Linked DNA regions of Homo sapiens. The protein of the gene in region 5 purifies or fractionates together with the protein of the main gene of each other region. This does not show direct contact. Each region holds a gene or a part of one and is shown on either strand. Other genes may lie near its edges.

What was found.
Region 1: the proteins of SLC37A1 (region 5) and CC2D1A purify together in Homo sapiens (affinity purification with mass spectrometry; one large-scale study listed by BioGRID and IntAct). This does not show direct contact.
Region 2: the proteins of SLC37A1 (region 5) and CLCN5 purify together in Homo sapiens (affinity purification with mass spectrometry; one large-scale study listed by BioGRID and IntAct). This does not show direct contact.
Region 3: the proteins of SLC37A1 (region 5) and UBL3 purify together in Homo sapiens (affinity purification with mass spectrometry; one large-scale study listed by BioGRID and IntAct). This does not show direct contact.
Region 4: the proteins of SLC37A1 (region 5) and TNFRSF21 purify together in Homo sapiens (affinity purification with mass spectrometry; one large-scale study listed by BioGRID and IntAct). This does not show direct contact.
Region 6: the proteins of SLC37A1 (region 5) and PTPRF purify together in Homo sapiens (affinity purification with mass spectrometry; one large-scale study listed by BioGRID and IntAct). This does not show direct contact.
Region 7: the proteins of SLC37A1 (region 5) and ADCY3 purify together in Homo sapiens (affinity purification with mass spectrometry; one large-scale study listed by BioGRID and IntAct). This does not show direct contact.

The regions. Positions count from the first base shown.
Region 1 is NC_000019.10:13,909,201-13,912,700, reverse strand, and holds part of CC2D1A (coiled-coil and C2 domain-containing protein 1A), read right to left. Parts: intron 2,879-3,500; coding exon 2,743-2,878; intron 379-2,742; coding exon 263-378; intron 174-262; coding exon 108-173; intron 1-107. UniProt on the Homo sapiens protein: Transcription factor that binds specifically to the DRE (dual repressor element) and represses HTR1A gene transcription in neuronal cells. The combination of calcium and ATP specifically inactivates the binding with FRE.
Region 2 is NC_000023.11:50,096,663-50,099,730, forward strand, and holds the end of CLCN5 (H(+)/Cl(-) exchange transporter 5), read left to right. Parts: 3' UTR 1-2,568; downstream 2,569-3,068. UniProt on the Homo sapiens protein: Proton-coupled chloride transporter. Functions as antiport system and exchanges chloride ions against protons. Important for normal acidification of the endosome lumen. May play an important role in renal tubular function.
Region 3 is NC_000013.11:29,763,871-29,767,244, forward strand, and holds the end of UBL3 (ubiquitin-like protein 3), read right to left. Parts: 3' UTR 501-3,374; downstream 1-500.
Region 4 is NC_000006.12:47,233,969-47,236,905, reverse strand, and holds part of TNFRSF21 (tumor necrosis factor receptor superfamily member 21 precursor), read left to right. Parts: intron 1-2,007; coding exon 2,008-2,236; intron 2,237-2,937.
Region 5 is NC_000021.9:42,541,352-42,544,851, forward strand, and holds part of SLC37A1 (glucose-6-phosphate exchanger SLC37A1), read left to right. Parts: intron 1-1,052; coding exon 1,053-1,129; intron 1,130-2,084; coding exon 2,085-2,251; intron 2,252-3,500. UniProt on the Homo sapiens protein: Inorganic phosphate and glucose-6-phosphate antiporter. May transport cytoplasmic glucose-6-phosphate into the lumen of the endoplasmic reticulum and translocate inorganic phosphate into the opposite direction. Independent of a lumenal glucose-6-phosphatase.
Region 6 is NC_000001.11:43,533,883-43,537,382, reverse strand, and holds part of PTPRF (receptor-type tyrosine-protein phosphatase F isoform 1 precursor), read right to left. Parts: intron 1-3,500. UniProt on the Homo sapiens protein: Possible cell adhesion receptor. It possesses an intrinsic protein tyrosine phosphatase activity (PTPase) and dephosphorylates EPHA2 regulating its activity.
Region 7 is NC_000002.12:24,910,238-24,913,737, forward strand, and holds part of ADCY3 (adenylate cyclase type 3), read right to left. Parts: intron 1-3,500.

The DNA.
Region 1 (3,500 bases), on a different chromosome or scaffold from region 5:
AGCCTGGGTGACACAGCAAGACTCCATCTCATAAAAAAGGCTAGGTCTTGAACCCCGGGCTGTCCGTTGGGTTGTGGTTCAAGGGAGTGGAGTCATCCAAACTGTACCTGGGCCACAGGAGGTGGGGTCTCTGAAGCCTTCTGCTCCTCTCCAAGGACCTCATTTAGCTCCGCCTGCAGGGACACACAGCCAGGGCAGGATATAAGGGCCTGCTGGATGGGGGCAACCGGATCAGAGCCCCCACCCCGCCCTCAGTGCTCACCAGCAGGTCATCATCAGCCTCCAAGTCGTCCTCATCCGTCCCCTCCTCCTCATCCTCATCCGGGTCTCTCATGCACAGGCTGGCCATCTTCTCAATGGCCTCCATCGGCAAGGGACCTGGCGGTAGGGGGATGCCCCAGGTGGACCAGGGTCGTACACCAAGAGCCCCCATTTCCCATCCTGGACACGCTAGGTGATCCCACTTCTCGCTGACTTCCCCATTTCATCTCTTCCTTATTCAGCCTCAGGTCTGGGGCCTGGCTACCTGAATTCAAAACCCAGCTCTGCAGACCGGGCACAGTGACTCACGCCTATAATCCCAGCACTTTGGGAGGCCGAGGCAGAAGGATCACTTGAAGTCAGGCGTTCAAGACCAGCCTGGCCAACATGGTGAAACCCTGTCTCTACTAAAAATACAAAAATTAGGCTGGGCGCAGTGGCTCACGCCTGTAACCCCAGCACTTTGGGAGGCCGAGGCGGGTGGATCACAAGGTCAGGAGATCGAGACCATCCTGGCTAACACGGTGAAACCCCGTCTCTACTACAAATACAAAAAATTAGCCAGGCATGCTGGCGGGCGCCTGTGGTCCCAGCTACTCGGGAGCCTGAGGCAGGGGAATGGCGTGAACCTAGGAGGCGGAGCTTGCGGTGAGCCAAGATCGCGCCACTGTACTCCAGCCTGGGCGACAGAGCGAGACTCCGTCTCAAAAAAAAAAAAAAAAAAAAAAAAAAATTAGCTGGGCATGGTGGCGTGTAATCCCCGCTGCTAAAGAGGCTGAGGCAGGAGAATCACTTAAGCCCAGGAGGCAGAGGTCGCAGTGAGCTGAGATTGCGCCACTGCACTGCAGCCTGGGCAACAGAGCAAGGGTTTGTCTCCAAAAAAAAAAAAAAAAACACACACACACAACAACAACAAAAAAAACCCCAGCTCTGCAACTTTCTCTCTGTGAGAACTTCGGCAAGTGATGTCACCTCTCTGAGCCTCAGTTTCTCCCTCTGTGACACGGGGATGACAACAGTTCCTCCTTCATAGGTAGGTTGGAGCAGAGAAGGTCAATGAAGCTCTTAGAATAGCATATTGCCAATATCTTGTTATTAGTTATGTTACATTCTATAAAGCTGCTTTGAAGACTAAATTAATGACTATAAGACTGTTGCTCCTAGGGGAAATTTAAGCTTAGGTTCCTGTGAATCTCCAGTCATAACCTTTTTTGGAGACAGGATCTTGCTCTGTCACCCAGGCTGGAGTGCAGTGGCCCAATCAGAGCTCACTGCAGCCTCAAACTCTTGGCCTCAAGTGATCTTCCTGCCTCAGCCTCCCGAGTAGCTGGGATTACAGGCATGCACCACCACACCCAGCTCTGGTCACAAAATTTTAATCAACTGATCAATACACAACCTTGCTCTATGTGTGTTTCTGTTTGAAGACACCTTCCTGAATAGATATCGTTCATTCATTAACTTTGAATTCACAGCCAACAGCACAGTAGTTCATGCCTGAATGAAGCTTCTCTCTTTTTTGTTTTTTGGAAACAGGATCTTGCTCTGTCACCCAGGCTGGAGTGCAGTGGCGCAATCTCTGCCCACTGCAACTGCTGCCTCCTGGATTCAAGCGATTCTCATGCCTCAGCCTCCCAAGTAGCTGGGATTACAGGTGTTCGCCACCAAGCTTGGCTAATTTTTGTATTTTTAGTAAAGACAGGGTTTCACCATGTTGGCCAGGCTGGTCTCGAACTCCTGGCCCCAAGTGATCTGTCCACCTTGGCCTCCCAGAGTGCTGGGATTACATGCATGAGCCAATGTGCCTGGCTGACATGAGCTTATTGTGTGTGAGGGGGCCCTGGGTGAAATACTTATGGACTCCAGATTAACTCCTATAACATGGTTATTATTCCAGTTTTACAGATGGTGAAACTGAGGCCAAAGCACATGATGTGACTCATCAAGTCACATAACCAGTAAGTGGCAGAGCTCGGATTCCAACTCTCAGTCTCGGTCCAGACTTGATCTTTTTTTTTTTTTTTTTTTTTTTGAGACGGAGTCTTGCTCTGTCGCCCAGGCTGTAGCGCAGTGGTGCGATCTCGGCTCACTGCAAGCTCCGCCTCCCTGGTTCACGCCATTCTTCTGCCTCAGCCTCCTGAGTAGCTGGGACTACAGGCGCCCGCCACCACGCCCGGCTAATTTTTTTTTTTTTTTTGTATTTTTAGTAGAGACAGAGTTTCACCGTGTTAGCCGGGATGGTCTCAATCTCCTGACCTCATGATCTGCCTGCCTCGGCCTCCCAAAGTGCTGGGATTACAGGCGTGAGCCACCGTGCCCGGCCTCAGAGTCGATCTTGACTCTCTTACCCAGATCATTGGCTCCAGGAGAACAGGGGTCTTCTCTGTCTTCTTTCCCCTACCTACCCAGTGCCCCCAGTTCTGCGCCCGAACCACTTGCAGGAGATCAGAAAATGTTCTGAGGGTGTGTTAACCATCTCACCTTTGCCTTTGAGCTTCTCCAGGGCTGGGGGCTGGCCCCCGACCAAAGCCAAGAACTCAGCCTCCAGTTCTTCATCGTTAGCCCCGTCCTCAGGGATCATCAGGCCATCTGGGGAGAGGTCAACCAGCAGGCCCAGCTAGGGGAACAGCAAGGGTTCAGTCAGACCTTTGGTTCACCACATGGCTAGAGGCAGCCATGATGGCCAGAGAGTCCCCTTGGGAGGAAGGAAACAAGGTCTCCCAGGGAAAGCCATTTCCCTGGGGAGTGCCAGGAGGCTGGAACAAGCCCAGAACAGGTGTTCCAAGATAGGCCAGGCCCTCTGGCACAGTTCAACCTGGGGCAAAGGGCAAGAGACCCAGCTCTCTGATCTGAATCCACACTTATGATGTGCTGCTGGGCCAAGTTCAGTGGGAAAAGCAGGCCCCTGGCTGGGCGCAGTGGCTCACGCCTGTCATCCCAGCACTTTGGGAGGCCAAGGCAAGAGGATGGCTTGTGTCTGGGAGTTCCAGACCAGCCTGGGCAATACAGTGAGACCCCCAACTCTACAAAAAAAAAAAAAGTTTTTTGTTTTTTGTTTTTTTTTGACACAGAGTCTCGCTCTGTCACCCAGGCTGGAGTGCAGTGGTGCAGTCTCAGCTCACTGCAACCTCCGCCTCCGGGGTTCATGCCATTCTCCTGCCTCAACATCCCGAGTAGCTGGGACTACAGGCGCCCGCCACCACGCCCGGCTAATTTTTTTTTTGTATTTTTAGCAGAGA
Region 2 (3,068 bases), on a different chromosome or scaffold from region 5:
TGGAGAAGAAACTAAAAGTTATGGCCATAGAAAAAGCCCTGGTAAGAAAATATTTGAATGGTGTAAGATGGTGGAAGGAAAGCCATCCCACACCCCTACAACATATGTTCTGGCATTTATAAACTGCTTGATTGTGTGCCTCAAGGGGAGAAAAAGTCAAGCAATGCTTCAAAGGCCAGGCTTTCTAAGCAAATGAGTGGTTCAAAGCAGTGTTTGGCTCAAGGGCAGTCTGGTTTTATGGATAGGGCCGACCCAAGACATCTGCTCATGAAGAAATGTGGCATCTGTTGCCATTTCCTAAACTATAAGGTTTAGATAGATTGTCTTGAATTTTGATAGCAAATTTTTTTAAATTTATATTTCTGCCTCCTCGTACATCCTTATATATGGAAAAAAAAGTAAGAGTTCCTCAGATCAGAGCTCAGTAGCTGTGTCAATTTGAAGTTCAATCAGTGTAGTTGTCCTGGGGTGATCGCTGACTCTGCTCTGTTTCATATTTCAGTTGCTTGCTCCAAGGAGAGAATTTCTGAGAACAATGGGTGTTAGCAACTTTAAGTTACTCCCCAAACGTTTGCTGGCCACATTCTCATTTCTAAACATCTGGATCTGGGTAAAGGTTTGAATAGATGTAGGGAACAAAATTGGTTTTTCCATGGTGTAGTCTAATTTTGCCAAATCACCCAAGAAAGAAAGTATATGACGTGTGGAGTTTGCATTTCTTGGATGGGACCTATCGGGTCACCCAGCCCAGTCTTACAGTCATAAATTCCTACCTCTTAGTTCCTGCCAAAGGGCCTTCAGCCTCTGTGTGCACACTTATTGAATGAATGCTTTGCCTAAAGTTTGGCCTTTTGAAGAAAAACAGCATGTGATAATATAAAAATATGAGAGTTTAAAAAAAAAAAAGATCTCTGCCTCTCTTCTCTCTGCCTCGTCCCACCTTGCTGTCTGTCTCATTGTCTTTCTCTCCCCTCACCATGCGCTGAATTCAGATTTCTCTTTCTTTTATTATAGGCATGTTGTTTTGAATGTGGACTTTGTGGGAGGGAGAGGATTGTTCTGAGAACAGAAACTGGAAGATACGTCTGAGTTGATGGGACCAACAGGGCTTTGCTCCTCTGTGAGGGCCAAAGCCATTGATACTTGTCGGGGGTGATGAGGGCTTTAGCATCTCAAGGCAGACATATGAAGTATTTACTGCTAAACTATATTACTTACTAGTACAAATCTGTTGGAATTCAGGGGCAGTCTAAGATTTGGTGAGTGAAATGCCATCTGGCAAAATCGAGAAGAGAGTGTGGCCTGAGAGGGGAATGTTCAGCCTCACTGTCACATTAAGGGTACCTCAAAATACATGGTCCTTCCAGTGTGTTCCTTTTCCTTCCTCCATTTCACTTTGTCCCCTCTTCTTCCTTTCTCTCCCATTTTCCTGGCTTTTTAGCACTCAGCTTTTTTTTATAAGTATGTATTTACTTTTTATTATATATTTGGTCCTTTGGGACTTTGTGATGATTAAGAATTTATTCCATTCAGGATTTTAAAATGATGTGTTTAATATTTTGTTCTCTTAAACTCTTTTGAAGCTATGCTGCTAACCAGGTATAGGCCAGAAAGGAGGTGGCCCAGTCAGTACCTTGCTCACGTCAGCTAAGGGGGACAGTGATGTCATGTGGGTGACTCTTCTTCATTTGACCAAGGCCAGCCTCCTGTTCTTACCTCTGCCCATTCATTTCTGGCTATGGGAAAACTACCACCTGTTGAGTGAGCCAATGAGGCCAGGAAGATCAGAGGGGCTGGGTTCCGGCCCATGGGCCACTATTTGAATTTCTCTGTAGTAAGCTCTTTGTAGGGCTGGCTCCAACTGCAGTAGCCAAAGAAAACCTGTCTGACTCGACATTTTAATGCCTGAGAGTTGGTGAAAGTTCAGCTGAAGCTAATGTCTAGACATCAGCAGTAACTAGGCATCCAGAAAGTAGCTTCAACCAAAGCTAATAGAGCCCAAGTTTCCGCAGGAAGTTTGGTGCTGAGCTGTCCAGAGCAGTTGTTTATCTGAGTGTTGCTAGCCCTTAGCCATGCTTTCTTAGCTTTATTCTCGCCTGTTCCTAGGCATAGCCTGAACCAGAGCTATGGCTCACTGCTCGCTTTATTCTACTCCCTAGTCATGCGGAACAACATAGTCTAAAAAGGAAGATGTGGACTGGGGAGTTAGGAGACCTGATTTCTATTCCCTATGCTTCTACTAACTAGCCTCGAGATCTTAACCGCTCTGTGCCTCAGTGTTCCCATCTGCAAAATGGGGATAGTGTTAATTGCCCTACCTACCTCACAGGGTTGTTGTGAGGATAAACTGAGACAATGAATTCAAAGCAAGTTGACAAGTAAGTGCTATGCAAATTGTAAGAAATGGAAACAATCATGTTAAAAGCAATGGAATGGACATTGGCAGAAGGGTTAATGGATTGTCCAGCCCTTTCTCTGTGTGGCTTAAACCCAGGTCGCCATTGCTTTATACATTTTCACTTAGCACAGATTTGTAATTATGCATGTAATAAAGCACAGCCTTATCCACCCTGGTGTCTGGTGTGTTTCTAAAGACCCTAAACTTGGTAGCTATTGATTTCTGATCAGAAAACCACAGGGGCAGAGTGGAAGGTTCAGGGGAGGGTAGCACAAAACACAACTGCAAACCCCTACTGGCAGGCCCACTGCTTAAAAAGATTTATTAAATAGTTATTTTCACATTTACAGACTCAGTAATACTCTTTACCATAAGGAGGCAAATAAGAGGCAGCTTGCGTTTTTGGAGATGTTCCAGATACCCGGATACCTCATTCATTGTGGCTACTTAAATGTTCCTGTCTCATACATTGGTGATACTTTCCTGATGATGTGAGAATTGGCTGGGAGCTGTATTTTTCTCTCTCTTTGAGCTCTTAATGATGTAAGGTCGTGGGCTTTGACAGGCCTCTTGCCTACAGCTACTTTGTACAAGGAGGAGGATGGGTAATCAAAACGGTCCTCCCATGAATACTAGGATTCTTAGTACCCTCTTTATGGTGTATTGGGAT
Region 3 (3,374 bases), on a different chromosome or scaffold from region 5:
TCAACCACCTCCTGTGTAAAAGCCTCATAGAAGCCACTGCCTTCTGAAGGAAACACACCAACTGGCAGGGGGTCAGGGTAAGCCAGGAGTCACACCCAACTACCACTGCTCACACCCAAGAACCCCACCCTACCCTGGCCACAAAAACTGTGCCTAGACTCCAGCACAGCCTGCAGCTGTGTTTCAATTATAGCTGTGTTTGTAATTATAGGTCATGTGCCTTCTCCCCCACCCCAATCACTCCACCCCAATCACTCCATTTGGCTAACAAGTGACCATATTATAACACAAAAATGGAAAACAAACTGGAATGCTCGAAAAAGTTACAAATAAAAACGGTATGAAGGCATATTAAATTTTGGCTGATACTTCCCTTTGATTTTGCTAAACTATAGCAAAGGCTGGCTCAATGTTGATTTTTACTGAAGAGTATCATTAACTGAAGAAAGAAAAAAAGACATAAACAGTAGTGAAATAAAGAATAGGCAAATACACCAGAATTATGAATAGAAGCCATTTTAAAGAAGAGAAATATTCTACAACAGATGAAGAAAGTTTTAATTTCTTTTCACATTAAACATTGTTTACCACAATCAGCTAACAGAAATTACTGTAACATTGGTCACGATGACTTCATAAAACTAAAGATAAATGTTATGAGGAAACTTCATTTAACGTGAATGGTAATGTTAGATACTGTATTTTTCCATGGTAAAATACAACTTATCTTGAAGAGAAAGCAAATAGTTCAGATCAGGGAGACATGCTGAGGTTTTAATAAAGAAAAGCTTGGCCTTGTCCAGAACACTTAACAAAGTTCAGGACAATTTAGGTAAAAGAGATGAGTGAGACACCAGCGTTAGGCAGGGACATAGGCTCATCATTCAGGCTTTATGTACATTACTGGATCTATGCAGCTCTCACCTTTAGATAAGTGAGCTATATTTTTGGCAGAGGGATCTTCAAAAGTAGCCTTGGATATGAGGAATCGTATTTTAACCACCAGGCAGTCCAAGGAATTATTTTTAAAGGGACAGCTGAGTATTTCACGTATATACTATTAAGGCATCTAAATTTTTGGTGTTTTCAGTATATAATTTTACTGCTACTTTTTATTCTTTTTTTTCATATTGTACAACTATGATATTAGGTATTAAGCGACGTAATTCTTTCTCTACTAGTGAACCAGTTTATTTCACTTAGCAAACTCTAAATTGAGGGAAATATATAATCTGAGAACACACAGAAAAATATATTGAAAAACCAATAGAGAATTATTTTTAACCATCATAAAAACTCAATCTTAATTAACTGATAGTCTTTAACTTAAAAAAAGAGTAATCAGAATGAAAATAGGTATTAAAAATAATTACCAGTAGTTTGTTTTACAAAATAGAGCCATAAATTGTTTAATTGCCCAATTAAGCAACTACCAGATTCTTTAGTCAACACTAACAGAATTCACATTTCAGCTAGTCAACAAAGCATATAAATATTTAACATCTCTTGAAGATAACATTTTAGTGATAACGGAGACTACATAATTCTATCCATTGTTGTGACTGTCCACAAATTAACCAGGTTAAATATCAAAGATACATTGGGAATACTCCCCAAAACAACAACAGAATATTAATTAAATGAATTTTAAAAGCTTAAGAAATGAAAGTAGAAAACATGAATGAGACGGTGCTTAAACAATTATTGACCTAATCAAGACCTTTAAAATTACCACCAAAATGCACTATCATTTTTTTTTTATTTAGTTTACAGGAAGAATCTGTAAGTACAGGTTGCAGAAAGAAAACGTTTAGTGCTATTTACATTCATTTTAAAACTCTGCTCTATACAAATTTAATTCTGATCAGTATGAACAATATTTTCGTAGATCTACTGCATATAAAGCCTTTTCATCAAAGCATTAACAATGAATAAAATAACATGATTACATTTAAACAACGCTGACCATTTGAAACCATTTACATTTAATGTTTGTAAGGGCTGTTGACACTTAGTACAGAATGTAATGTCAGCCTGCAACTTCATTTTTATAAAGGCTAAACTTATTTATATGGAATATTGTTCTGTATACTACGCGCCAATCTATATTTTAAGTCCTGTAGTTAGGTATTTTATAAGTCTTTTATTAAATATATTCTACACATATTTGTAATTTCATCCAGGAAGAATTTCTTCCCAGTGAAAAAATATAAAAATCTTTCATATTTTTACAGGTTTAGATGAAAGTAGCTCATGCTTTAGTGCTGTGCAAATTGTTTTTAGCATATCAATCTTTAAATTATTGGTATGAAATAAAAGAAAAAGTGGCATTCTTGTGTATGCCATAAAAATCAGCTTTTGACTTTAATACAATTGCAAGCACTAATATCAAACGCAAACTATATAAAGAAACAAAATTAGTACTATGGAGTTTTTTTTTAATTTTAAGAATTCATCTGAACTCTAAGGAGTAAGCATGACACTGGATGTGGTTACAAATTAATGATAATTATGGAAAATTTCAATTTGCTGATATTCAAATACATAAAATTGATCAATGAGGTTTTCTAATATTTCTGCACAATAATGAAAGCCGATGAGTGACTGAAACTACCCTCCCACATTAAGGCTAGGAGACGCACTCTCACCCCTTCTTGTGCTGTCTAAACAAACACTCAGTTACTGTAGGACTCAAGAGTGCATGTCTTAAAGGAAAAAAAATTAGTTTCATCAGCCCTCTACTGAGTGCTTTAAACAGGCACATTTTGTTTTTTCATTTGTTGCAGTGAAAATAGTCACACTCAGTTTAGTATTCTGTGCCAGTGCAGCCACCACGGCTGACTTTGGTAGAATTCACCCAACATTTTAGTTTCTTTTCCATTTTTTCCTCTCAAGTTGGCCCAGTAATTAACTTCATTAATTGCTGAGTGTCTTCCAGTGTGGAATTGTATATATAAGTATTTCTAGATACCACACACTGTTATAAATTCTGCTGATGAGGAAAATAATGCCAATCTTTTTAATGCAAATTGTATTTGGAACACTTGATTTATTAGTTCTGATGATGAAAATTTTGTGGCAGCAAAATGGTTTCTGCTACGAAAGATAACTTGTTAACTTTTCCCCTGGAGATTGACTGCATTCAAAAACCAATATGTGTTAAAACAGCTCAACAAAAAATACAAGAAATAAAAAATCAGAGTGAAAAATGTTCTTGGTTCTTTTTACTTTCATGAGAAAAGATGACAGTGTTCATGTGGTAATTCAGTTCCATGTGTTTACAGGCAGACTGTTCTGAACGGTTTCTGAAGCAATGTCGGGTCTTTTCTGTCCCAGCAGCATGAAAGACAAAGACTATATCACATCACACTAGG
Region 4 (2,937 bases), on a different chromosome or scaffold from region 5:
TTGTGGGTGGAAATTTCCTTTTAAGCAAGAACAGTGTACTATATTGACTGACCATGTCTTCCAAGGTATTGTCCCTGAGAACCAGGATGTAGACAAGTGTTCTTAGTCTAACTGAGTGAATTAAAAAAGTGTGTTGGCGTGAATGGCCATGTGCATTTTCAAGGAGGAGGGGCATGCGCCAGGGCCTATGGAATTAACATTTTACAAGCATATACGTAACATTTGTCTGTAGGTCAGAAAGGGACTGCTAGGTGTGCATGTTTCCCAAGTCTGAAACTTGCCCTGGAAGCAGCAGCAGGGTGTGGGTGGTGGTTCAGAGGAAAAACGCTGTTGGAACATTAGACATGTGCAGTAATCAGTTATCTTCACAATCTGCAATCAGTTGCAAGAATTTCTCAGGCCTTAAAATTTGTAAAAGAAGCAGTTGTGTTTGCTTTGTGCCTTATATAACTATCCCACGTAATACTTTGAAATATCAATGTCTTCGTTGAAAAGCTTGAAAACATTTTACTTGAAGTGTGTGAGTGAAGGGATGAGGATTCTAAGGAGTGGTGATTAACAGCTTGGGGAGAGTGCCCATCATTCCCTGAACCCTGCTCTGTGTGATCTGGCCAGCTGGCTCCCAGGTTTTTTTATCCATGCCGGAAGAGCCAATAAAAAGATAAAGTCAATTACTAGGAGAGGCCACAAGTGCCTGCCAGAGTTCTGATGTATTTTCTCAAATGAAAGGGCCAAATAGAGATGTCAAGCAGGCCTGAGTTGAGCACTGGCTTTCTGCCAGTAGCTGTGTGCCCTCTTTGGGCCGCAGTCACTTTACTGGTAAAATGAAGTCACATCACCTATCACTTCCCCTTCTCTCCACTGCACACCCCCAGTACAAGCCATAGTCATACTGTATGTAGCCACTGTAGGAGCGTCCTAACTGCTCTCCCTACTTTGAATCTTGCCTCCCTAAAATCCATTCTCTACCCACCAGCCAGAGTGGTGGTGAAGCTCACCATCTTTATCTGAAACCATCTTGTGTGTTTGTTATTGTCTCTCTGACCTCCCCACTCCAGAATGCAATCTTCACAGTCTCTGTTCTATCCTTTTGGTCATTACTCTCCTCCTAGCCACTGACACCTCTCATTTTCTCCTGTTCTCATTCTTAATTTTAGCAGTTTTTTTCCTGAGCTAGTTTGAAATGGGAGTCAGAAAACCTGGGGTCTAGTTTTAGTTCTGTGACTTCCTTGTTGGCCCTTAGTTAAGAAAGTCACTTCACTTCTCCAGGCCCCAGTTTCCTTCCCTGTGAAGCTGAGTGTAAGAGTCAGCAAGCACTGCAGTAACAAAGGACCGCAGACTGCATGGCTTAAACAACAGAAATTGGTCTTCTCACAATTCTGGAGCCTCAGAAGGCCAAGACCAAGGTGTCTTCTGAGGTCTCTCTCTTGGCTTGCAGATGGCTGCCTTATCACCATGTCTTCACTGTGTCTTCCCTCTGTGTGCGTCTGTGTCCTCATCGCTTCTTTTTATTAAAGACACCAGTTATATCGGAGTGTAGCCAACCCTAAAGACCTCATTTTACTGTAATTACCTCTTTAAAGGCCCTCTCTCACAGTAGTCGCATTCTGAAGTACTGGGGGTCAGGGCTTCAACATGGAGGTGGCATAATTCATTCAGCTCATAATACTAAATTATATCTAAGACTCCTTTCAGCTCTACAAAATTATATTTTAAATCGGGGATCTTTCTCCTTACACCCATGTTCCCTTCTACTCCCCTGAGATAATAGCTTGGTTCATATGCCTCCCCGTTTTTAGTACTCATGCATATCCTCACTGTATTTTTGAAGGGTTTAAAAGTCTGTGTATGTGTCTAGCAATCATATAAATAAGTTAAGGTCAACTGAAGTGGGAGGATGTATATATAAAATGTTAAATGGAACAAAAAAAATAGCCTCTGAGGAGGGATTTTAATTTTACTGTTTTTTTTTCTATATATAATAAAAAAAAATTTTCCCTCCTACAGCTGGAAACTGACAAACTAGCTCTCCCGATGAGCCCCAGCCCGCTTAGCCCGAGCCCCATCCCCAGCCCCAACGCGAAACTTGAGAATTCCGCTCTCCTGACGGTGGAGCCTTCCCCACAGGACAAGAACAAGGGCTTCTTCGTGGATGAGTCGGAGCCCCTTCTCCGCTGTGACTCTACATCCAGCGGCTCCTCCGCGCTGAGCAGGAACGGTTCCTTTATTACCAAAGGTACGGGCATCGCAGCAGACCTCACACACGCACTTAAACCCCCCAAAGAGCCCCTGGGATTCGTCCCTCCCCGTCCACAGTCCAGTTGTAGCTGAGAGTTGAGTCATCTGAATTACCTGCCCAGGAAGACCAGTCCAAAACTTCAAGATACGCTGGCCCGAGAGTAACCTCGCCATTGGCTGGCGAAGACACGCCTCCAAAATCTTTGCAGCTCGCACTGCCCGGTGGAGAGCTATCGGCCACCCTTTATCCTCATGATGCTATCAAATGTGTGTTTCGGGGAAGGCCTGATAAAATGTAGTCTGGCAAGATTTTTGAAAATTATTTACCAAGCTTGCTGTATCCAAAGATTTAAAGTTGAACTTATCTTGAGAGTCAGAAGTACAGGTTTTAGGCCGTGCGCAGCAGCTCACGCCTGTAATCCGAGCACTTTGGAAGGCCGAGGTGGGCGGATCACTTGAAGCCAGGAGTTAGAGATGAGCCTGGCCAACATGGTGAAACCCCATCTCTACTAAAAAAAAAGAAAAATTAGCCCGCTGTAGTTCCAGCTACTCAGAGGCTGAGGCAAAAGAATCACTTGAACCTGAGACGCGGAGGCTGCAGTGAGCTGAGATTGTGCCACTGTACTCCAGACTGGGTGACAAGAGCAAAACTTTGTCCCAAAAAAAAGAAAACTACAGGTTTTAGTGACTTAAAAATAC
Region 5 (3,500 bases):
CAGTGAGGTGGTCAGAGCTGCCAGGCTGGCCCAGGGTTGGGGACCCTGCTCTAGAGAGCTGGCTTACTGCAGTGAGGTAGTCGGAGCTGCCAGGCTGGCCCTGGTTTCGTGCAGTCTTGTAGAGCCACCCCCGAGTCTCAAGACGCTAGAGCGTCCTCAGCAATACATTCCCCAAGTCCCTTCATGAAACTCAAGTCAGGGATTCTTCAAAAGTGCAGAGATACTTTGTCCAGGCGCGAAGTCAAGTTCGTGTTCATTCCAGAGAATGATTAACAACAGTACCTTCTCCATGGCATGGTAAGGGAAACATGCAATTCACAAGCCATGTTTATCATACAATTCTATAAACAGTTCATAAAGAGAAGAAAGGTTTTCTCTCTTTAAAAAGTTTGTATTTGTTTATTTTTTGAGATGGGGTCTTACTGTGTTGCCCAGGCTGGAGTGCAGTGATGCAATCACAGCTCACTACAGCCTTGACCTCCCAGGCTCAAGCAATCCTCCCATCTCAGCTTCTTGAGTAGCTTGGACCACAGGTGTGCACCACCACACCTGGCTAATTTTTAATTTTTTGTAGACAAGGGGGTCTCTCTATATTGCCCAGGCTGGTCTCAAATTCCTGAACTCAAGAGACCCTCCTGCATTGGTCTCCCAAAGTGCTAGAATTACAGGCATGAGCCGCTGCACCTAGCCTCTTTCTATGAAGTTTTTGGATTCAAAAGAGACCGGGAAGCTTGGCCCCACACTGTTATGAGGTGTGATCTGCTGGTGGTGGGGTTCTGGCTGGGTTTTTTTTCCTCGCTTTTCTCTGCTTATTCTAAAATTTCCACAATAGGCATGCATTGCTTTTATTTTGAAAAATATATAGATACCTGTATACATGGTTTTAAAATATATATGTAGTTTAAACTGTATATAAATATAAAATTGACAGTCCATCTCTGGCTGTCGTGCCCCCTGCTTTGTGTAAGTGGAGCAAGCTCTGTGCACCTCCCTGCAGCGCTGTCCCGGGCCTGCTTCCCACAGGTCAGTCTCTCCTTTGGCCTCTCCTGCAGGTCATCAACGGGCTGGTGCAGACCACCGGCTGGCCCAGCGTCGTCACCTGCCTCGGCAACTGGTTTGGAAAAGGAAGGTGAGAAAAAGCAGCCCTGTTTCCAATAGCAGATGAAAACTAGACCATTTTACTTTTAGTTTTTCTGTAGACTGATTACAGCAAAAACACTTTAGTATCCTCTTTAAAATAAGATGGCTGAAACCTCTGGGGCTTGAATTGCTGAAATTCAGATGGCCTGTGTCCCACGAGACAGGGGAGCTCCGCCCTCCCACTGTGGGCCTGGTGAAGTCCGTGTCACTCGGCGGCTCCTCTGACAGCTGCATCTGGCCTCCCAGGTGTTGTGGGAGATGCAGAGTCCAGGACCCTGCCCCAGGCCTTTTGAAGCCAAAGCTACATGTTAACATGGGAGTTTGGGAAGTCCCGACCTGGGTCACCCAGCGCACAGCACCAAAGTAGCAGAGCTGGGACCCAGCCTGGCGAGTCCAGATTTATTTGTAAATGGCTTTTATTTTATACAGATAAAATTTATTTATTTGTAAAATTCAGCTCAGCCAGGCCAAAGGCTTATTTATGGTGGACGATCGCAAACAAGATGCGGAAGCTAAAACGGGAACACCAGCGTCATCAGGTCTTAAGTCTTAGATACTGTGCCTCATTCACCTGGTGTGTGCATCCATGAGTTTTGTTCAAATGACAGTTCATCAAGTGACTGTATGTATTAATTGATTGTAGAGGCACAAATTTTAATTTCAGGCCTTCCAAGACTTTCAGGGAAAGGCCTCTTTCTTCTTCTTGAGTACAGAATGCGCTCAGAGCAAGAGGTAGAATGGGTGATGGCACAGCCTGAGGCCACATAAACACATCAGCTCTCGTGAGCATCGCGAGTCCTGCATGGCACAGAAGCAGGGTCTGCATGGCCCCCCGTTGATTCTGCGCCGACTCCCTACTTTGCAGGCACTGCTGCGCCCTGCACTGCTGGACTCGTTTCAGCTTCTCAGCTCCATCTTCTGTCTTCTGTTTTGTTGTGCTGCAGGAGAGGTTTGATTATGGGGGTCTGGAACTCCCACACCTCCGTGGGCAACATCTTGGGGTCATTGATCGCTGGCTACTGGGTGTCCACATGCTGGGGCCTGTCCTTCGTCGTGCCTGGAGCCATCGTGGCAGCCATGGGGATAGTGTGCTTTCTCTTCCTCATTGAACGTAAGTGCACGTGGCCTTGGAGACCACCCACCAAGGGAGGCCTCGGATTTCCCTGCCTGGGTGGGCCTTGGGGGCGAGTGTGAGAGCTGCGTGGCCTAGCGCCCTGTTTGCCCGTGGCTGCCTCAGCGCTCTTCTTACCAGGGAGACTTCCCCGGGGAGCCGGTTCTCTCCTGGTTTTGCTGGATTTCCTACTCTCCCCTGATTCTGGAGTGACCCATGTCCCCATTCCTTCCTCCCGTCCTCCTGTCCTCCCTTGCCCCGGCATCAGGAGTTCATGCATGGGAGTCTTCCATCTTCCCACAGGCTGTTCCTTCTCATGCCCATCTTGCCACCACAGCCTGAATTGGACCCAGTCAGCTCTTTGCCTTCTGATAAGATATATCTTGGACAGTGTTATAAAAGACTGACTTAATATCTTAACTGGGTAAAAAGTATCTCTTGGAAAATCAAATCTCTTATTCCATTTCAGATTCAATAGCAAACTCTTTATTTAATTGAATTTGAAATTCATTTCTGAAGTAGAGATCCAGCAGGCTCTGGTGCTGAGAAGATTCAGGACAGTTACAGCAAGAATAGAGATGCCCGGGTGGCCCTGGCGGTCACACGACAGGGGCTCGAATCCCGCAAGCCATTCTGATAAGCTGTACTCAACTCTTAGTTCTTTGACTGAGTTTAAACCATATGGCAGGAGACAGCTCCCTCATGCTGCCTGCCAGGTAGGGACACTCAGAGCCAGCTCCCTCCAGCCACACTGGGCATTGCTGATCACTTCAGCTCTGCATGCAAAAGTTCATCCATATTCCATTTAGTCGCTCACTTTTTTTGTCTTGCAAAAGCTAACCTTTTAATTTTTAAGGTAACCATCATCTGGCCACACTGTGAGTTTGGAGACTCTCACCCCATGCTTCTGTGTTGGTGAAAATGGAAATAAACATTCAGATGAGGAATGTCCAGACACACCCATTGGTGTGAGCAAAAAGTGGGGGCCCCGGGCTGCACTCCGCTCCCCTTTCCCCGCTTCTGCAGAGGCTGAGTAAGCCTTCGGCCACACCCCAAACAGCCTGAGCAGGGGCCTCCTGGGATGGGTGGGGGTCTGGATCCCTCCCAGTGGGCCAGCATGTGGCTTTCAGCTCTGGCTGGTGTGTCACTGCAGTTCTGAGAAAGGCCATTTCCACCACCTGTTTTCTTCCGCTCTGGTTCCTAGAACCTGGAGTTCTGTGCCCCTGCGCTCCAAGTGTTTGAGACACCA
Region 6 (3,500 bases), on a different chromosome or scaffold from region 5:
TGCCAGTCTTCAAAGAAGCTTCAGAAGCAATATTTATTTTTGACTTTCTCTACTCTATAATTTTTAAAATGAAGGCGTGCCCCTGGATGCCTCCTCCGCTGGCACACATGCAGCGACAGAGCCCAGCCCCTTCCTTCTAGAGCCATTATTGAGTCCCCACCAGCGTGGGTACCATCCTGGGTGGGGGTGGGGGTCAGACACACCCATACCACCTCATCACCACTTCACGGAAGCTCAGCTGTTTGGCCTACTCGACGCAAGCTGCACCTTGCAGCAGGCTTCTCACCTCAAGCCCCCACATGCACAGTGATCCCCACCCCACACCACTCTGCCACCTTGGCTCCTCCTATAACGGACACAAAGAAACCACAGTGGGAGGGTGGTGCGTGGGAATGTCCTCACCGGCCCAAGACTGACCCTCATCATGAAATCAAGGACACACCTCTGCACCTGGGAATTACCCTCAAGTTGCACTAACCACCTCTGCCAATATGGGGGTACTCTCACCGACTGAAGGCCATCCCAACTGACCCAAGATGGCCCTCGCCAGCTTGGCGACCCAGCCTCCACTGCCCCACCTACCTGCACCAGAACCCGCAGCCCTCTCTGCATGCTTCCCTCCCCGCTCCCCAAGCTGAGTTTCCAGCAGCTGCTGCTCCCAGCATACAGGCTGCCCAGCAGGTCTGGCCAGACAAACCAGCTTCCAGGCCCCAAACTTAAAGGCCCATTTGTCTAGAGATGCCCGCAGGGCCTCACAGTATTCAAGTGAGGTTTTTGGCTGCACCATTGTGCAGAGACCCTGGGCAGAGGGGCAGAGTCCAAGGCAGGGAACTGGGTAATGGGAAAGGCCCCCCAAGCTGGCCAGGCGCTGCTGCCACACCCAGCCACAGCAGGGTCTCGTGCTTGGAGACTGAGACAGGCCCTACATGGAGCAGAAGCCACACCTGGAAAGAGGTGTGTACCCAAAGTGGCCAGGGGCCATTTTAGAAGACTAAACATTTGCAAAGACCCTGAGGCACACAGAACAGCATGAGGGCAGGATCCTAGAAAAGCCAAACAGTAACTTTGAACCACGTCAGTCTGGGATCAAACTGACCTCAAAACAACCTATCAGGCAACCAAATAAAGACTCAGATTCACCAACTGCAGCTCCCAGAACCCACTCTACACTCACACTGGGACAGAGCCCAGAACAACCAGGACAACCAGATACACCCCCAGAACAGAGCCAGAGCTGACATCTGGAAGGTTGACTAGAAAGCTACTCAGAAAGGGCCTGAATGGTTCAGGACCCAAGTTAGAAATCACACTGCTGGCCAGTCACAGTGGCTCACCCCTGTAATCCCGGCACTTTGGGAGGCCAAGGCAGGTGGATCACTTGAGCCAGGAGTTCAAGAGCAGCCTGGACAACATGACAAAACCCTGTCTCTAAAAAAATACAAAAATTAGCCAGGTGGGACTACACCTGTAGTCTCAGTTACTCAGGAGGCTGAGGTGGGAGGATCACTTGAGCCCAGGAGGTGGAGGCTGCAGTGAGCCACGACTGCACCACTACACTCCAGCCTGGGCAACAGAGTGAGATTCTGTTTCAAACCAAAGAGAAAAAGAAAGAAATCACACTGCTTGGCACCCAGGAAGGCCTCAGAAGGGGTGAAGTCCACAGTCATGTCCAATATCAAGAAAGAAAGCCCTTGGGGCCAACGCAGGGCTGGCCCCAGTAGGGTTCCCCATCATCTGCCAGGCCTGAAACCTGGCCCGGCAGTGGGTCAGGAGCAAGTCGATGATACCTAGGGGAATGCAGGCACAGCTGCCCTCTGGAGCAACCCCCAGAATGCCCCTGTGGCTGCACCAGGAACAGTCCCCAGAAACAGCAGCTAAAATACTGCTAAGGAGCTAAAACCAGAGTTCTCAGACCTAGAAGTCACGGTCACACAGAGACATGGTGCATCTGGACCACAGAGGCAGATGGTGGCAGAAAGAGCCTCAGTAGAAGCCCAGGGCCCAGGGAGGGTGGGAGGAAATGGAGAACTCAATACCCCAAGGCTGCCCCTTCTCAAAATTCCCTTCCACCTACCCCAAACATGGAGTCTCTTCTGCAGGCCTCACCTCTAGTCTTCTCAAGCCCACCCACCTGAAGGTCAAACACCTGAGCAACACAAACAATCCCATCGATAACAATAGGGGCAGGCACCCCCTTTGTTGAGCTCCTTGACCTGCTAATCTCAGCTCAGAATTGCAGCAACCTTAGGCAGACAGGGACCCTAACCTTAGCAGTCTATCTTCTCATTAAAGGCAACCTCATGTGACCCCTGATGGGAGGGTGGGTTTACACCATCCCAGTTGAGGATGATTACAGTAACTGCAAACACAGACAACAGTACTCACTAGATGCCAAGCCCTGTGCTACACACACTTTATGCATACTATCTTTAATCCTCATAACAACCCTTATAAGGCACGGGTTTTTATTATAATCATTTGACAAATGAGGAAGCGGATTCAGAGAGGTTAAGCCACTTGCTTAAAGTCACGCTGCTAGTAAACAGAGTCCAATCCTAGCAGTATAAAACTCGAGCTCTTCACCACTGTCGGAGGTTACTTTCTCTCGAGGTGCACAGCTCTATGGTCTCTCATACAGCTCTCGCTTCTCTTGGTCCGACCGACATTTCTCTCCCATACCCTCACACCAAAGCCCCTCCTTGATGTGCCTCCCCCACTGAGCCTCCAATGTCCCAAGTACCTCAAGGGCCACATGTCCAACTAAGAGCTTATTCTCTGCCCCTCCTCACCAAGTCCCTAACACAGTGAAGCTTCAGGGCCTTCAGTGAAGGCCCGCTCAACCACTCCGAGGAACCTGGACTCCTTCCTCTTCCTCTCCTTCACTCCCACATCCAATAAATCATTCTGTCCTGACAAGTGTACCTTCAAGATGGCACCATGCTACCACCTATCAAAGCCAGCATCTTCTCTCACCTTACTTACCTGCACCCTCTTGCCCCACTGGGCATCCTGTCTCCATCCTTTTCCCATAGCCACAGAGCATTTTCTGGAAACATAAACCTGACCACAGCACACTCCACCCTCCCTATCCAAGCTTTAAACCTTTGGTGTTTTCTCTCTGGGTTCTCAGAGTAAAATTACAGGTACTTAACAGGGCATTCAATGCCCTCTGTGATCTGCCACATCTCTGAATACTTCACAAGTGACAACACCTCCCAGTCTTTATTCATACTGGTTTTTATCTATCTCAAGTCCTTTCTCTCTTCTTCAAACTCCTACTCATCCCTCCAAACCTAGTTCACATCACTTCTTCTTGGTCTCCTCTGGGACTCACCTCACCCTGACCTCCGAACTCTCCCCCGTCTCTTGATGAACTCTTGCAATGTTCTAACCCAACTCAGAACCGCAGCTGCTTTAGTTGAGCAGATGCCTGAACCTTAGGGGTGGGCTGCCTCTTCTACATAGCTGTTAGTCCCAAAGGAAGAAAGGCAGCCGGGGCC
Region 7 (3,500 bases), on a different chromosome or scaffold from region 5:
TGTCACCCAGGCTGGAGTGCAGTGTCACGATCATGGCTCATTGCAGCATCCGGGGCTCATAATCCTCCCACCTCAGCCTTCTGAGTAGCTGGGACTACTGGCACATGCTACCATGCCTGGCTGATTTTTGTACCATTTGTAGAGACAAGAGTTTTGCCATGTTGCCCAGGTTTAAACTGTTACTCTTTTAAGCCTCCAAATTTTGGGGCTGTTTGTTACACAGCAGTGGATAACTAAAACACATGGTGAATAAATGGACATATACTCAGTAACACTGAGTAATGAGCCATCCCACATTACTGAATTTCCAAATATAATCCTTATTTGTTCAAACTTGTGTTATCCATTCCCGAGGAAAATGTTTTTAGATACTACACTACACTTTATGCTAAATGCAATTTAATATTTCCTTTCTTTTCTTTTCTTTTTTTTTTTTTTTTGTGAGACAGAGTCTCCCTCTGTCACCAGGCACAATCTCAGCTCACTGCACTCTCTGCCTCCCAAGTTCAAGCAATTCTCCTGCCTCAGCCTCCCCAGTAGCTGGGACTACAGGCGTGCATCACCACGCCCGGCTGATTTTTTGTATTTTAATAGAGATAGGGTTTCACCATGTTGGCCAGGATGGTCTCGATCTCCTGACCTCGTGATCCACCCACCTCGGCCTTCCAAAGTGCCGGGATTACAGGTGTGAGCCACCGCGCCTGGCCTTAATATTTTCTTGATGAGTTGGTCACCATTATGCACATCAGTTACTATGCTGTCCTATAATGTAACAACGCCTCCTACAGCCAGAGAAGGTGCATATGAGGGCTGTTGGTTGCAACACTCAACACCCCAGACATCTCTGTTCCTTGAAGATGCCCCCAAAAACACCTCCTCATCCCCCAAATTGCTCCTTCTAATGCTTGTGGGTTGAGAAACCAAAACCCTAACCCCGTTGGAACTATCTCAACAGGCTCCGAGGGAAGATATAAGGGTTCTTTTTTTTTTTTTTTTTTTTTTTGAGATGGGGTCTCACTGTTCCCCAGGCTGCAGTGGGGTGGTATGATCAGAGCTCACTGTAACTTCAAACTCCTGGGCTCAAGCCATCCCCCTCCCCAGCCTCCTGTACAAGACACACACCATCAGCCTGGGCGCTGTGGTTCATGCCTGTAATCCCAGCACTTTGGTAGGCCGAGGCAGGTGGATCACCTGAGGTCAGGAGTTCGAGACCAGCCTGGTTACTGTGGTGAAAACCTGTCTCTACTAAAAATACAAAAAAAATTAGCCAGGCATGGTGGTGGGTGCCTGAAATCCCAGCTACTTGGGAGGCTGAGGCAGGAGAATTGCTTGAACCTGGGAAGCGGAGGCTGCAGTGAGCCAAGATAGCATCATTGCACTCCAGCCTGGGAGACAGACTCAAAAAAAAAAAAAAAAAAAAACACACACACACACACCACCAAGCCCAGCTGAATTTTTTTTGGTGGTTGTGTACGTGTGTGTGTGTGTGTGTATGAAGATGGGGTCTCATTATGTTGCCCAGGCTGGTCTTGAACTCCTGGCCTCAAGTGATATTCCTGCCTCAGCCTCCCAAAGTGCTGGGATTCCAGGCATGAGCTACTGGTCACCGCCTAATGGGTTCTTTTATGACTCCAGTGAGAAGGAACTCCAAAATCCTACTGACCTGGGCTCCAATCCTGCTCTGCCTCTTACTAGGCATGTGGCCCTGGACAAGTCATTTCAGTTGTCACCCATTTCAGTTTCCTGATCTGTAAAATGGAAATAATATTTGCCTCTTGCCAGAAGGCACTAAACTGTAACAGAGCAAGAGCTCAGTAAACACAGCCACCTCCTCACTGTCCCTGCTCATGGGCCTCGACCTACGCACAATGTGTCTCTGAGTCTCCGTGTTGGTGATAGCACATACCCGTGGAATCTATTATCAAGAACGTGTAATTTGGTGATGGCTGGGCATGGTGGCTCACACCTGTAATCCAGCACTTTAGGAGGCCGAGGTGGGTGAACCGCCTGAGCTCAGGAGTTCAGGCCCAGCCTGGGCAACATGGTGAAACTCTGTCTCTATTTGAAAAAAAAAAAAAGGAAGAAGAAAAAGAAAAAAAGAAAAAACAAAAAGAATGTGTAATTTGGTGGGGGGGCAGCCAGGGGCAGAGGGTGGTGTTGGAATATTTACCCAGCATTAGACCACCCTCGTGGGATTTGCTGTTTGTTTATGAAGAAACTGCAGAATGCCAATAACCCTGGCATCCCAGCCATTCCATCTGACGGAGGGTTTACCCAGAAGGCTGGGCAGACCAAGCCCAGGAGTGAGCACGCATGTGTGTGTGTGTGTGCATGTGTGTGTGTGTGTGCATGTGTGTGTGTGTGTGCATGTGTGTGTGTGTGTGTGTGCCTGCATGTGCATATAAAACTACCCAGTTACCCACCCCTGGCCCAGCCCTGGGCTTCCGTTTCCTCTCTAGAAAAACTCGCTGACTATAAAGCGCTGATTTAAAATAATAAACACGAGGAGTCCAGTGTTCACAGCAAAATGTCAGGGAAATAATGTGGATGAAAGGTGGGGCCTAAATTGCATATGCATGATGATGACAAACTGGGAAAGCTCTGTTTATACACAGATCGGGGTCAGAAAAGGCCACAGAAAGCTGCGACAGGGAAAGGATGGAGGGGTTGATTTTCTGCAAAGTTGTTTACATGTTCAATGACTGATTATTCCTCCTCACATGCAGCTGAATCTGATGGCCCTGCAGTCCCCTTCTACGCACGTCATCATTGTTCTGGTCCCTGGACCCTCCACTGATGCCCATCTGCATACTCTCCACGGAGGGATGACGGCTTCTTTCCCGTCCCGGGTCAGTGGAGGAGCCCAGGGCCAAAGAGCCAGGACTGGCTTGAGTTTGCCTCCTCTTGCTCTGTGTCCTGCACACCTCTCCCTGCAGCCTGCTTCCTGAAGGCTGAAAGCCCCCAGGCCTGCTGCTTCCTGCCCACCGCACCTCACACCAGCTCCTGTCCCGATTCAGCCCCCTGCCTTTCTCAAGTACTCCTGGCCACGTGCCCACAGGGAACATCGTCATGGGCTTCTCCCTTCTTTGCATCCAATTCCCATGGGGAGAAGGGGGTGCCTCCTGTTATACCTTAGGGACTGCCATCTCTTGGCACTGTTCAGCTACGTTGCTTAGCAAAGACATTTGGGGGCAGCCAGAAAAGTAGGAGGCCCAGATGCCTGGGTTCCAGAGAAAGAGAGGCTTTCAGGGAAGTCCCCCAACCCACCTTTCTCACTCATCAGTGACCCCTCCCCTGTAATCCAGCCCCACTACCTCCTCTCAACCTCACTGAGCCTCAGTCCCCTTATCTGTGAAATGGAGCCAGTAACATCCAGGATTAAATGGGATGAGGTGCATGCAACAGCTACCTGCCGTCTGCAGACAGGGTGTCTCTGGAAGCCTCAGTTTCCTCTCACCCTCCCTACGGCAGCTCCCTCCAGCCCCTAGGAGCAAATGTTC